Linked DNA regions of Homo sapiens. The protein of the gene in region 1 interacts with the protein of each later gene in a biochemical or structural test. Each region holds a gene or a part of one and is shown on either strand. Other genes may lie near its edges.

Evidence for each region. Proteins that work in one complex are often made in the same cells at the same time.
Region 2: the proteins of CEBPZ (region 1) and NFYB form a complex in vitro, tested with the Homo sapiens proteins (one study listed by BioGRID).

The regions. Positions count from the first base shown.
Region 1 is NC_000002.12:37,228,333-37,235,791, reverse strand, and holds the start of CEBPZ (CCAAT/enhancer-binding protein zeta), read left to right. Parts: upstream 1-4,195; 5' UTR 4,196-4,224; coding exon 4,225-4,380; intron 4,381-6,755; coding exon 6,756-7,459. Other genes in the region: NDUFAF7 (protein arginine methyltransferase NDUFAF7, mitochondrial), read right to left, coding at 3,526-3,686, 4,032-4,086. UniProt on the Homo sapiens protein: Stimulates transcription from the HSP70 promoter.
Region 2 is NC_000012.12:104,135,211-104,142,433, reverse strand, and holds the start of NFYB (nuclear transcription factor Y subunit beta), read left to right. Parts: upstream 1-4,223; 5' UTR 4,224-4,293; exon of another isoform or gene 4,294-5,225; intron 5,226-6,901; 5' UTR 6,902-6,980; coding exon 6,981-6,986; exon of another isoform or gene 6,987-6,990; intron 6,991-7,223. UniProt on the Homo sapiens protein: Component of the sequence-specific heterotrimeric transcription factor (NF-Y) which specifically recognizes a 5'-CCAAT-3' box motif found in the promoters of its target genes.

The DNA of each region.
Region 1 (7,459 bases):
TCCCAGCTATTTGGGAGGCTGAGGCAGGAAAATGGCGTGAACCTCGGAGGCAGAGCTTGCAGTAAGCCGAGATCGCGCCACTGCACTCCAGCCTAGGTGACAAAGTGAGACTCCATCTCAAAAAATAAATAAATAAATAAATAAATAAATAAGCAAGGGAAATATGGTGTCTTTACCCAAATTTTACAAAGTAACAGTCATTTTACAAAACCGGTAGAAAAACAATTACACCTTGACCGTAAAGGCAGAAGTCATGTAACGTCCATCTCTGCACGCCAGACCCTTCCTCCCCTCCCAGCTCCCACACCCAACACAGCAAGACCCTGCCTACTCCTCCAGCCTCCTCTCCAAATTCTAACACTTTCTGCCTCACATATGGGCCCTGCCTGCTGGTGATGTTCTGTTTCTTGATTTGGGTGCTGGTTACATGGGAGCATTTGCTTTGTGAAAATTCATTGAGCTGTAAACTTGTGGTTTATGAACTTTTCTATATGAATATTATATCTCCAGAAAAAGGGTTGTTTTTTTTTTTCTTATTAGCCTTGCTTGTCCAGACATCCATGCCACTGCAAATCCTCACCCTTCTCCCTTTTCAACTTTCCCTGGCAGTCTTATACTCAACCTCCGAATCTGCTCAAATGCCACCTAGCTGACCTCCTCCAGCCCTCCAACCTAAGGCCAAATCCAGTGCCACCTTTTCTGAGCTAATTTGTCTCTGTTCTTCACCACAAAGTATAGTTGTTTGCAGAAGATCATGCCTTATTTATCTTCATATCCCAAGTTTTAGCACGATGCCTAACCTTCAAGAAACACTCAAGAATTGAGTTAAATATTTCTTATGCTTCTCAAGCTCCTATTCTACCACCTTACTACAGGTGACATGGGCCCCAGTCTCACTCCAGAATTAAAGAATGTTATAAAATACGAATTCCTCAGCTTCCCATCCCCACCTGGCCTCTAACCTAATCTGGGGACTCCAAGAATGAAATGCCTTCCCCTTCTCCTCTCATCCAAACCTAATCCCTCCGCCTGTGCTCTGGACCATTCCTCATACAACTCCCCTGAGTCCTTTTAGCTGTCCCCTTCTCTCTTCCAGCTTCAACTTTCCCCCTTCAGCATTCAAAATAAATCAAGTCACTCCCATTTTTGAGAACATTTTTTCAATCCACACATCTCTTCTTCTAGGCTTTCTAGTTCCGTTCATAAGGAAACATTATTGGGGTATTTACGCTTTTTTGTGTTATGAACCACTGTGGTAGCCCAGTGATGCCTATAGACCCCTTCACAGAGTGTTTTTAAATGCACAGAACCACAAAGAAATAACTGAAAAATGTGTATCAAATGTTCTAAAAAATGTGATATATACACTTCTTTACTAGTGTATTAAAAAAATATAATTAGGCCGCGCACAGTGGCTCACACCTGTAATCCCAACACTTTAGGAGGCTGAGACAGGCGGATCATATGAGGCCAGGAGTTCAAGACCAGCCTGGCCAACAAGGCAAAACCCGATCTCCATTGAAAATACAAAAAACCTAGCTGGGCATGGAAACATACACCTGTAATCCCAACTACTCGGGAGGCTGAGGCACAAGAATCCTTTGAACCTTGAAGGTGGAGGTTGCAGTGAGCCAAGATTGCACTACTGCACTCCAGCCTGGGTGACAGAATGAGACTCTATCTCAAAAAGCCAACAAACAAAAAAGCCCATAATCAAGCCAAAGACCCAATAATTAACAAAATTTTGAAGTAAGGATGAGCACGATGAAATCCTGAGATGCCTGTGATCACTGTATTGTGATAAGGAAATACCAATGATTTCCACAGATGACAAAGTCACAGGTATTGCTGATGCTACTAGTTGCTGCGTATGTTCATAATTGAAGAAATGCTAAATTTCAGTTGAAAGTTAGTGAAAATAAAGGTATAATATTTTTTCCATCCAGCTTCATGAAACCCCTGATTTCTATTAAAGGGTCCCTAGGTTAAGAGCCTCTACATTTTAGAGTTACCCCTACTCTCAATGCTGGGAAACCTTCCTTTCTCTCAGTATGTTCTCCCTGGTTCCTTGGCTTTAAATATGACCTATATGCTGATGACGAGCAAATGTATATATGCCTGCCCAGTCTTTCTTCTGAACACCAGGCTCACTTTTTTTTTTTTTTTTTTTGAGACAGAGTCTCGCTCTGTTGCCCAGGCTGGAGTGCAATGGCGAAATCTAGGCTCACTGCAACCTCTGCGTCCCGGGTTCAAGCGATTCTCCTGCCTCCTGACTAGCTGGGATTACAGGCACAAGCCACCACGCCCGGCTAATTTTTGTATTTTTAATAGAGACGGGGTTTCACCAAGTTGGTCAGGCTGGTCTCAAACTCCTGACCTCGTGATCCACCCGCCTTGGCCTCCCAAAGTGCTGGGATTACAGGCGTGAGCCGCCACGTCCGGCCCTGAACGCCAGACTCTTACAGCGAATTGCCTACTTTCTATCTCCACCTGCATGTCACTGCTAACAAAATATGTATAAAATGCAGCTCCTGGTGTAGGCCCTCTCCCTAGTACTCCTCCAAACCTGGTCCTGTCTGTCTTAATCTCAATAAAAGGTACCATCATCACCCAACTGCTCAAGCTAAAAGTACGAATCAGCCTTGATTCCTCCGTTCCATCACTCAATCCATCGGCAAATCCTGTCAGTCCCTTTCTAAATCACCCTCTTCTATTTCTAGTACCACCACACTAGTCTAAGCCACCTATCTTGCAGCCCTGCCTAACCGGCATCGAAAGAAAGATACCGGCCTTGGGTAAACCTCGACACTAGAGTCACACTACCATATCCAACAACAATGGCCAATCTAACCCCAGAATTCCACAGAGGTCATATTTCAACCCAGCAAAAGATGAAATATTCTAAAATAAAGGACTATAGGCTTTCACCAAATGGCTCTGTAGAACAGACAAGGAAACGTGGGTCAGAAAGCTGTGACTGTGCCTAATCCTAGAACAGTGAAGACGACCCAGACTGCATTCTCAACTGCACATGTGAGAAAACCCAGCACATGTCTCCAATGCCAGCTGAAGCCATTCCAACACAGACGACTTTCCAGGCAGTAATTCCTATTTCCAGCTGCCTGTTGGAGATTTCTACCTAAGAGTCCCACACACTTCAAATTCATATACCAGCCTGAACTCTCCATCCTTCCTCCCGTATTCCTTCTCCCAAAGCAATGAATCCACACCACCCACCATCAGCCAAGTAGGAAAGTCATCCTTCCCGCATCATAAATCCAATCAGCTACATTCTGTCTCCTAAACACCCTTGGACCGTGTCCTCTCCTCTTTACTGGCACTGCCTCTGACGTGAGCCAGCCCTGACCAACTGACAAATTATCTGTCCCCAGGTCCTCAGAAATGGCTCTTCCCCTGGCAGGCACCCCCACTGCCTGGGCTGAGAACCTTCGGGCTTCTCCCTCCTGGCTTGCACCTCGCAAATCGGCTAGAGAGGGCCTAGTCCTCGGGCTACCCGACCCATACCTTGGCTGGATTAGTCAACACCTCCTTCATGTACTCGGCCACAGTGATGGGACCAGTAGACTTTATTTTGTACATAAGATGCCGCAGCATCGGCGTCACCGGGTTTTCTGCAGGCTCATTCCCGGAGCTGAAGTATTTCCCTCTCCAAATAAAAGGAATGGCTGCGAAAAACACAAATTAAACAGACCCCATGATAAATCTGACCATTCACGAGCGCAAGCCGCCTGAGCGTTTTCAAAACAGCTTCGTGAACCCTTAACCTCGCCCCACCGCAGACCGCGGGCTACTGTGCTTAGCACGCCCACGGGGCGCAGAGACAGCACCCACTTGCCCACGACTACGCAGCCCTATTGCGTTTGTACCGGACCCGTTTCCAGCCCAGGGTACCTTCAAGGTGGAAGTGAGCCCCCGAGCCCTTGATCCCCCGGTACCCTCAACTGAAGAGCTGAGGAAGGCGCCCCACGCGGCTTCCACGGCAACCGGGCTTCGAGGGGACTGACGCTTACCTGCGCGCGCCACGGCACACAACGGCCCCAAACCTGACCTCAGCAGTACACTCATGCTGAAATTCGCAGGCTAGCTCGCTCCGCCAGGAGCTGGGGCTTAGACCATTTCCGGGAGAAGACACGCCCCGACAGGAATTACGCCACTGGCAGAGCGGAAATAGGCTGAGTTTCACGCGCGTATGCTTTGCCCGCCATGGCCGCAGTCAAGGAGCCTTTGGAGTTCCATGCCAAGCGGCCTTGGCGCCCCGAGGAGGCAGTAGAAGATCCGGACGAGGAGGATGAGGATAATACTAGTGAAGCCGAGAATGGGTTCTCCCTGGAGGAAGTGTTACGGCTCGGAGGCACCAAGGTAACGGCCGCGGGCTCCGGGGAACGGGATCAGGCGTGGAGAGTTCCGAAGGTGGCTAGGCTGACTGCCCCGCCGCTTCCGCGCTGCGTAGAGCGCGGGCGTCCAGGACCGAGATCCCAGCCTCTGAAGCATGTGTTCGGTGCGCTTCCCACGCCGGTTTCCACTGCTGTTTACAAAAGAAAAGTTTCGAATTGAACGTTGTATTCTCTGGCTATTCTTAGGATGTAGGCGATCTTCTGATTTTATTGACGTGGTATAACCATCACACCATCAGGTCGGAGAGTGGCTTTTCTTGGTCCTGACCTTGTGGTATGAGTGTTTTGAACACCAGTGGTATTGGAATTTTCATTTCTGTTCTCATAGAGTACATGCACGTGTCACTGTATGCCCCAGAAGCCCTCTTTTTTGGAGCATCCTAATTAAGGGAGAGAAACAGTAAACAAACTTTTAAACACATAGTACAGCAGACGCGGGGTAGTGCTATAAAAGAAAATAAAACAAGGAAGGACGATAAGGAGTGGGAGCGCGTTAGTATTAAATGAGATGATCGACAAACACATCACGGAAATGTTTGAGCAGAATCCTAAAGGACAGGAAGGAGTGAGCTGCCATTCCAGTCAGTTGGAACAGCAAATGCAAAGACAGGCAGAAGAGTGCCTAACCTATTCCATGAGCAGCCAAAATGCCAGTGTAGCAGAGGCAGAGTGAGTTAAGGGGAGAATAGTAAGAAAGGAGGGCCGAGGGGTCAGAGGGCAGGCTTTTGCTCTGAGTTTGATGCAAAACCACTGGAAGATTTTAAGCAGATAAGGAACAGAAATTAACTTTGTTTTTAATATTATTTTGTTTGGAGACTGGACTTTCAAGGTGGAGGAGTTAGTTAGAGATAGGCAGATTCACAGTTTGCTCTGTGCTTGTGTATATTTAAGTTTTGAATAGGTAATATATACACATGAAACACGTGGTGCAAACTTTAAAAGATACATAGTGAAGTCAAATTGTTTCCACTTTTATCTCAGCCATAACCATTGCCCTGATAGGAAGCAATTATTTTTACAACTGCATTTTATATCTTTCAGGGATACTATATACCTTTTCAAGCATATACATACTCATTTATGTGTATGAAATACGGGTGTATCTTTTTTACATAAATGGTACCATATATATACACCTATCTCTACATTTTGCTTTCTTTTCTGTCTTAGAAATCCTTCTATATCAGTGCATAACGTTCTGTGTCATTGCTATGGCTGCATAAATCATTTTGTCTGTCTTAATTTATCTAACCAGCCATTTATTGTGAATATTTAAATTATTGCCAGTCTTTCACTATTTTAAATAATACTACAGTTAATAACCTTAATCGTGTTTTTCCCCCACTTTTGTAAGTGTATATGTAGTATAAATTTGTAGAAATGAGCCAGGCACAGTGGCTCACACCCATAATCCCAGCACTTTGGGAGTCAGAGGTGGGAGGATACCTTGAGTCCAGGAGTTTGAGACCAGCCTGGGCAACATAAGGAGACCTCATCTCAAAAAAAAATTTTTTTTTTAAATAGCTGGGCGTGTAGTGCCAGCTACAGGCTGAGGTTGGAGGATCACTTCAGCCTGGGAGGTTGAGGCTGCAGTTCAGCCATGGTCATGCCACTGTACTCAAGCCTGGACAACAGAGCGAGACCATGTCTCAATCAGTTAGTTAATTTTTAGAAATGAAGCTGCTGGGCCAACAGATGTGTGCCTTGTATTAAATAGTTGTGATTGGAGTTGACAAATTGTCCTCCATGGAGGTTGTGTCAGTTTACACTCACATCAACCATGTATGAAAGTGCCGTTTCCGCCACCCCTTCCCCAGCATCACCTGTCATTGTATCTTGCTCATCTTGCAGTGTATCTTTGCTCATCTGATAAATTAAAAGATGGATGTATCATTGTGGTTTTAATGTGGATTTGTCTAAACCTCAGTGAGGTTGAACATCTTTTCATATTCTTAAAGAACCCTTTTTTTCTATGAACTGTTCATGTCCTTTGCACATTTTTCTTTTGGGTTGTCACTTACTGATGTGTAGAAACTTATATTAAGGGATTAAACCCAATTACTTTGATAGGAATTGCTTGTATTTTTTTTCCAGTTTATAATTTATATTTTTTTCCTATATCGAAATAAAAAGTGTGTGTGCGTGTGTGTGTGTGTAAAAGAAAGAGAGAGAAAGAGAAATTTACTTATCCTTTCCTTTGTGGACCCTGAGTTTTATGTCAAATTTGAAAGGATTTTTCCAGTTCCGAAATTATTTTTAAAATTATGTTGTGTTTCCTATTATTTTATGGTTTTATTTTTCACATTTGTAATGTATTTTTAACTTATGTTTTTAATGCAGCAAGATTACCTTATGCTGGCTACTTTGGATGAGAATGAGGAAGTGATAGATGGAGGCAAAAAAGGAGCAATCGATGACCTTCAGCAAGGTGAATTGGAAGCATTTATTCAAAATCTTAATTTGGCGAAGTATACAAAAGCTTCCTTAGTTGAAGAAGATGAACCAGCTGAAAAAGAAAATTCCAGCAAAAAAGAAGTAAAAATACCTAAAATAAATAATAAAAATACAGCAGAAAGTCAAAGGACATCAGTTAATAAGGTGAAAAATAAGAATAGGCCAGAACCACATTCTGATGAGAATGGCAGTACCACACCGAAAGTAAAGAAAGATAAACAGAACATCTTTGAATTTTTTGAGAGACAGACTTTGTTACTTAGGCCTGGAGGCAAATGGTATGATCTGGAGTACAGCAATGAATATTCTTTGAAACCCCAGCCTCAGGATGTTGTATCTAAGTACAAAACCCTTGCTCAGAAGCTGTATCAGCATGAAATCAACTTATTCAAAAGTAAGACGAATAGTCAAAAGGGAGCCTCTTCTACCTGGATGAAGGCAATTGTGTCATCGGGGACACTAGGTGACAGGATGGCAGCCATGATTCTTCTTATTCAGGATGATGCCGTTCACACACTTCAGTTTGTAGAAACTCTTGTGAACCTTGTTAAAAAGAAGGGCAGCAAACAGCAGTGCCTTATGGCCTTGGA
Region 2 (7,223 bases), on another chromosome or scaffold:
GGAAGAAGGATTACTAGAGTGTGGCTGTTGCTGATTGGCTAATTTTCAGAAGCAAGTCACTGATCAGGAGATTGTTATTGATTGATTAAAACAGATTCTGGTTGTTTCTTGTCACTATGACCAAAGAACAATCAGTATCTTTTTGTTGCTCAATTTGGAATGAAGGAACTTGCCACTCTGTCTTACAAGGCCACTGGAAAGTCTTTGTCTTTTACTTTGAGAGAAATGAGGAGTTAATAGGGGATTTTTGAGCAGTGGAGTGACAGGATTTGACTTATATTTTCAGAGGATCTGAAATCTTGGCTGCTGTGTACCAGAGTGGAAGAGGGGAGACAAGTCACTGCAGTCACCCTGATGAGAGATGTATTAGGTTGTTGTTGCATTCCTGTAAAGAAATACCTGAGACTATGTAATTTATACAAAAAGAGGTTTAATTGGCTCACGGTTCTCCAGGCTGTATAGGAACCATAAGGCTGGCATCTGCTTCTGGGGAGGCCTCAGGAAGCTTCCAATCATGGTGGAAGGCAGAATGGGAGCAGGAACTTCACAAGGCAAAATCAGGAGCAAGAGGGAGAGGGGGAGGTGCTACACACTTTTAAACCACCACATCCCAAGAGAACTCACTCAGTATCTCGAGGACAGCATCCAGGGGATGATGCTCAACCATTCATGAGAAAGCTACCCCCATGATCCAATTATCTCCCACCAGGCCACACCTCCAACACCGGGGATTACATTTCAACATGAGATTTGGCTAGAACATCCAAATCCTTTCAGGAGATGTGACTTGAACCATGGTGGTAGTAGTATGGGCAATGAGAAGTGTTTTCTCCCTTTTTTTTTTTTGAGACAGAGTCTTGCTCTGTCACTCAGGCTGGAGTGCAGTGATGCAATCTCAGCTCACTGCAGCGTCCACTTCCCGGGTTCAAGTGATTCTCCCATCTCAGCCTCCTGAGTAGCTGGGACTACCAGCATGCAGCACCATGCCCAGATAATTTTTGTACTTTTTGTAGAGACAGGGTTTCACCATGTTGGCCAGGCGGGTCTCAAACTCCTGAGCTCAAGCAGTCCACCCTCCTCAGCCTCCCAAAATGCTTGGATTACAGGCATAAGCCACTGAGCCTGGCCTGTTTCCATTTTAGATATATGTACTTATAGCCAACAAATAAACAAGATAATCCAGTTAGGCTAAGGGTATTGGAGCAAATATCATATTTACTTTTACATAGAATAATATAGCTGGATGACAGGATAGAGAGTAACTGGGCGGGGCTACTTAAGAAGAAGGGATCAGGGAAGTCCCTCATTGAAGGGGCAAGACCTCAGTGATGAAAAGAAGCCAGTGAGGATCTTAAGGCTGGTGCGTGTGTGAGGAGCAATGCATAGGCCAGTGGGTCTAGAAGGTGGTGAGGTCAGGGTTGAGGAAGAGCCACAAGCCGGGTGGGAGAGGGAAGCTGAAGCCAGATCCTTCTAGGCCTCAGTGCATAGAATGGATTGAGAAGAGTGGAGCAAGAGAAGAATCAGGAAGGTGGAAGTGGAGACAATATTCTACTAGACCCTGTCCTCATGGGAATTTTACGAGACCTCATTGAAGTGATGAAGTAAAAACTGTGAAGTCTTCATGGGGCCAGGGATTCTGTTTCATTGTTTGCTTAATTATGACGCCTAGAGAAATGGCGATATGAACTAACTGGCAGCTGTGGTGTACAGACTCGAAATAAAGACACTCAATTACCTGTCTCTGACTTTGAATGCAAAGACTAGGTTAGCTGCAGTGTTTTTTCCAAGACTAAATTATGATCTTGGCCTTCCTCTTTCACCAAGTCATCAGAAAAGTGGTTAACATTTATTGGGGGCTTCCTGAAATAGATACAGAAGAAACAGAGAACACAGGTTGGTTGTTAAGGCAGGATGACCTAGGATCCAACTGCAGAGGGGATGTGGACCGGGTTCCATTTCTCCTAGAGTTCTGGCTCCTCAGGGTAAGGAGAGTGATTCATTCACCTTTGTAGCCCTTGGGCTCCTAGTACAATGCCTGCAGAATGTAGGAGCTGATATTACCTTTTAGTGGAATTTGAATTAAGCACATAGTTTAGATCCACAGTACTGAAATGATAAACTATTAACTCAGAAAAGTAGTCATCTTCGCATCTTTTGGTTCACCATCCAGAATTGGGAGAAGGATTAGTCATCTTTCTCCCAATTCTTTTTTTTTTTTTTTTTTCCTTTTTTGAGACAGAGTTTCATTCTTGTCGCCCAGGCTGGAGTGCAATGGCGCGATCTCAGCTCACCGCAACCTCCGCCTCCTGGGTTCAAGTGATTCTCCTGTCTCAGCCTCTCGAGTAGCTGGGATTACAGGCATGCGCCACCACGCCCGGCTAATTTTGTATTTTTTAGTACAGACGGGGTTTCTCCATGTTGGTCAGGCTGGTCTCGAATTCCTGACCTCAGGTGATCGGCCTGCCTTGGCTTCCCAAAGTGCTGGGATTACAGGCGTGAGCCACCATGCCCAGCCCCTTCTCCCAATTCTATTACTTTATATTTCCTGCCTTTGAACCTTTGAACACATCATTTCACTCCTTAATCTCCACTTTATGGGTAAGCATAGAGAAAGGGAGAAATTAAACTCAGGCCAATTTTTCCTTTTTTTTTTCTAAGCAAATAACACCTTTTAAATGTTTGATGGAGATTGAAGAAATTCATGCTATATAAAGATCTTAGGATAACTTTTTTTTTTTTTTTTTTTGAGATGGAGTCTTGCTCTGTCGCCTAGGCTGGAGTGCAATGGTGTGATCTCGGCTCACTGCAACCTCTGCCTCCCGGGTTCAAGCGATTCTCCTGCCTCAGCCTCCTGAGTAGTTGGGATTACAGGCGCCCACCACCACGCCCGGCTAATTTTTGTATTTTTAGTAGAGACGGGGTTTCGCCATGTTGGTCAGGCTGGTCTCGAACTCCTGACCTCAGGTGATCGGCCTGCTTCGGCCTCCCAAAGTGCTGGGATAACTTTTTTTTTTTAAAGGGCTTTCTATGTATACATTATCCCAAACAACCCTGAGAAGCAGACATTTGGCCAAGATCACAAGCCTGTAAGAAGGGGAGTTGGAATTCAAGTCAGGTTGTCTGATGACAGTGGCATTGCTACTTACTCCTCTTGTCACAATTTGGGGCTTTCATTTGTCTTTTCTTCCATACTTGCCGCAGAAATGTTTAAATACTCTGAGAAACAGTAGGAACTCTATAAATAAAAGATCTCTGTATTTTTACATAATCAAAGCTGGAGAGTTTAATGTGGTGCAGGCCACTCGGTTAGTGGAAGCAGAGGGCATGCCATCCCCAGCTCCGGTTGCAGTGAGTGGATCCAGTGTTGGATTACCCACCTCTGGGATGGTCACTGCTAAGCGAAGCTGAACTCAGGACTGCAGTTTGAGAAAGACAGCGAAGGAGCTTGGCTGCACAGAGGCAAGAACGGGCCACGGATTCTTGCAGCCAAAATGTCATCTGGTTGGGAAAAGCCGCTTGTCAATCTGCAGCTACTAGAGGGGTGGGGGTGGGTGGAAAATGCAGCATCTTAAGTTCAAGATTCAGGGTGAAGGCTGGCTAGACTTAGCAGGGGTCTGCATCTTTAGATGAAATGTGAAAAACACCCAAGCTCAGGGACCAAATGACAGGGAGCGCTGTGCATGCGGCGACGCTAACAGGGACCCAAGGAAAGAAAACACGAGGCGCTGAAGGCGCTCCAGGAGGCCCCCGCCGTTCAGACCCTCCCGGTGGCTCGGGCGCGTCGTCCTAGGGGGCGGCTTCTGTCCTTGGTTTCCCCTTCTTAAAAATCCAGGCGCAGGCAGGCTGAGCTCAGGCGGCTGAGGCACCTCCACGTGGCGGGGGAAGGGGTGACAAAGAGAGGGACGCCCGAGAGATCCCGCTTCGCACAGGCCCGGGTCAGCACCGGGAAGGAGGCCCGCCTAGACCCGAACGGCGCGCCCGGGCAGGGCCCTGGAAGACCTCGCGCCTAGAGGAGCGGCATCCGGAGCGGCGCGGAGGCCTCACAGGAACGCGGGACTGGGCCGGGGGCGGGGCGGGGCCGGGGGCGGGGCGGGGCGGGGCGGGGCCGCGGCGGGCGGGCGCGCGGGCGGCGCGGAGGGAGGGTGTCGCGCCGAGGGAAGCGGCCCGCGGCGGAGGGAGGGGAGGCCGAGTCCTGGAAGCGGAGCTCCGCGCTGGGACTGGTTCCTTCGCAGCCATTTTCTGTCCAACCAAACAGCCGATTGGAGACGGGAGCCAACCAGGGCTGCATTGGAGGTTTGTGTCTCGCTTCGGCCAATGATCGCTCCTAAACCGACTCCACTTTAGCTCGAATGAAATGTCCGTCTCCTCCCGGCGCCGTCCCCGCCGCCAACGCCGCCGCGGCCGGGGGCACTAGCCTCCCGCCCTCCCGCGCGGGCCGAGGCCGGGCCCCGCGCCTGCGAGGCCGCTCCCGCAGCGGGCCGGGCCGGGGAGCGGGCGCGGGGCCGCGGCGCGGCTCTTTGTGCGCCGGGCTGAGGAGCGGCGGGACGCGGGCCAGGCCACCTCACCCTCGCCGCCGTTGAGCTCCGGGCCCGGGGCCGAGGAGGGGCCGCGGGGCTGCGTCGGGGCCCCGCTCTCGACGGCGTCCCGGGCCGGCTCCATTTTGTGCGGGGAGCCGGCCGAGGGGCGGGAGACGCGGCCCGGGCCCTGGCCCCGTAGCCCCGGCGGCGGCGCGAGTCCCCGGGGGCGCCCTCCTCCCGCCCGCGGGGCTGTGGCGGGGCCCGGCGCTTTGTCTGCCCGCACATCCCGGGGGCCGCGCGGCGGGTGGGAGGCAGGCGTTGGGCGCGGGGCCGGGGCGGCCGGGCGAGTCAGGGGATGCGCTCTGGGGGCGGCCTCCTGGCACTCGCAGGGCTGACAGGTCGCCGGGACCAGGCCGTGGGGCCGGGGCCACCCAGGCACCTGCGTGGGGAGGAAGGCATGGCTTTAGCTTCCCCGCAGCCTGGTTTGCGCGTAAAGAATGCAGCCATCTGGCGGTTTGCGGTCCCTGTACTTGCCCCGAAGGTGGGAAGGAAGCCCTTCGGATTGGACTAAGGTTTTAATCATTAGTGGTGGGAGGCGGGAGGATATGCAGGGCCTTAAAGAACGGTAGTCTTAGAGAACAAAGAATTACAGAGCACCCACAAATCGTAATCTCGCCCAAAGCACTCTAACAGGATAATTTAAACAAGGTTAGGTAGCCTGCGACCTTTAAAAAAATGGCATCCCACTAACCCGCATGGACCCCATAGTTGCGTGGTTCGTGCTACAAATCACTGGGGTGGTTTCATCTCTCTTAGTATGGAAACTAATCAGCAACATAAAGTGATGAAAGCAAACGGATCAATATCAGTGGCACTAATCAGTGGGGGGTTTATTTGTAAAGTATTGAAAGTTTAACCAAAATTCCTTAAAAGGCAAATTATTCCTTCCCTGCATTGCTCTTGTATCTTAATTTAAGGATTACTGTATATTGATGCAAAACTCTGGTTGTTGATGCCAAAGAATGGAGGGTGGAGGAAGGGACTACTGCTTTTCTTGGATACAAATTTGCATTTCTTAAAACATTAAACAGATGTATGCATTCCCTTGAGCTTTTACATATATCAACCTGCCCTTAAGAAAATATACACCATATGAGGTGACAGTGTTTTTCTTTAATGTACTGAGTCTAAATATATACTGAATCAACTATTTGGGTGAGTGAGTGTGGTGTGGTATGACTCCCTGCCCACACCCCCCTCTCCCATTCCAAGCAAAATACATAAATATAGCTCCCATGTTTTAAGTGTTCTGAGGGCTTATTTTTTCAAAGACACTCTTTAAAAAATAACATTTCTCGTTACAAGGAAGGACTTTTCTGAGCAGTTTTGGGGTTAGAGGATACTATTAATATTTGAAAAGAAATTATAAATTACTTTTAATATTATAGCAAACGTCAAGCAGTTTTTGCTACCTGGACCTTTTTAGTGGCATTAAAAACTTTCAATTCAGTGGCTACAATTTTTTCTGCTATTTGCTAGATTTCATGCTTGGATGCGTATCAGTATATCTTCTCCCTTTAAAATTAACACTGAAAGGATGTGTTTTTGTTTTGGCATCCTACCCCTCCCCCATTTAATTGTTTCCTTTGAGAAAGAATGGAGCAAATGAGAAATGAAACTTGTAACACAGCAATTGGTACTAATTTGTTCAGCTATTTATGCCTTACAGTGAGACTGAAGTGCTATTTCGATGCAATTTTAGTCAAAAATGGTGGTGCTTCAAAATTATAAATAAGGGTCTTGATTGTGTTGCTTTTTTGATATCTTCTCAGTGCAGAATGTATCTTCATTACAGTATAATCTGAGATTCTTAATTGAAAAGCATTATATTCTCAGATAATTTTTTCCTCCTCTTGAGCTATAGAATGTCTAAATGTTACTCTGAAACATTTAAGAAAACCATCACCAAAAAATTAAGATGATAAGGGGTGTGTTTGCATCTTGAGTGTTAATGTTTTAAGTAATTTAGATGTATAATTTTTGGTCTCTTGCATATTATATAATTTGGTCCCTTTTTGGTGTATTGTAATGAATGTTTATGATGAATATGGCTAAATTCAGGGTTATGTTGGAAAATCCATTTTCTCCTTTCCCCATGGAATTAACTTGTTTTTAAGTTCTCCAAAATAAATCTTTCAAGTCAACAAACATTTATTGGGTGCCTTTTTATACTATTTTATACCATGTACTCCATTGATTAAGAATAGTAGTCAAAATTATACAAGCCCTCTTTAATTTTATGAGAAAAAAAGCCTATAAGTGATACATTTGATGTATTTTTACTATTGATAGATGTTAGGTCCTAATAGATGTTTATCTTTTAGGTTGAAATCACAAAGATTAGACACCTTTTTAGATAGGTGTTCTTCAGCACCACTGACAACACGGTTCTGACAGTATTTCATGACAGTAAGTATATTTTACCATTTTGGTTGTTAATTAGATTTGAATAGTAATTGGCTGGAAATAAAATTGTAACCAATTTATACTGGAGGTGCCTGGTAGAATGAATGCATTTCAAGTCTAGACAGACAGTACCTCTGCTCATTCCTGTTGCTTCCTTATTTTCAGCTTCTTGCATATATTATTTCCCATGGGTCCCTAAGTGCTGTTGAGGCTACAGGGTAGCCTGTCCCAGCTGTAAAG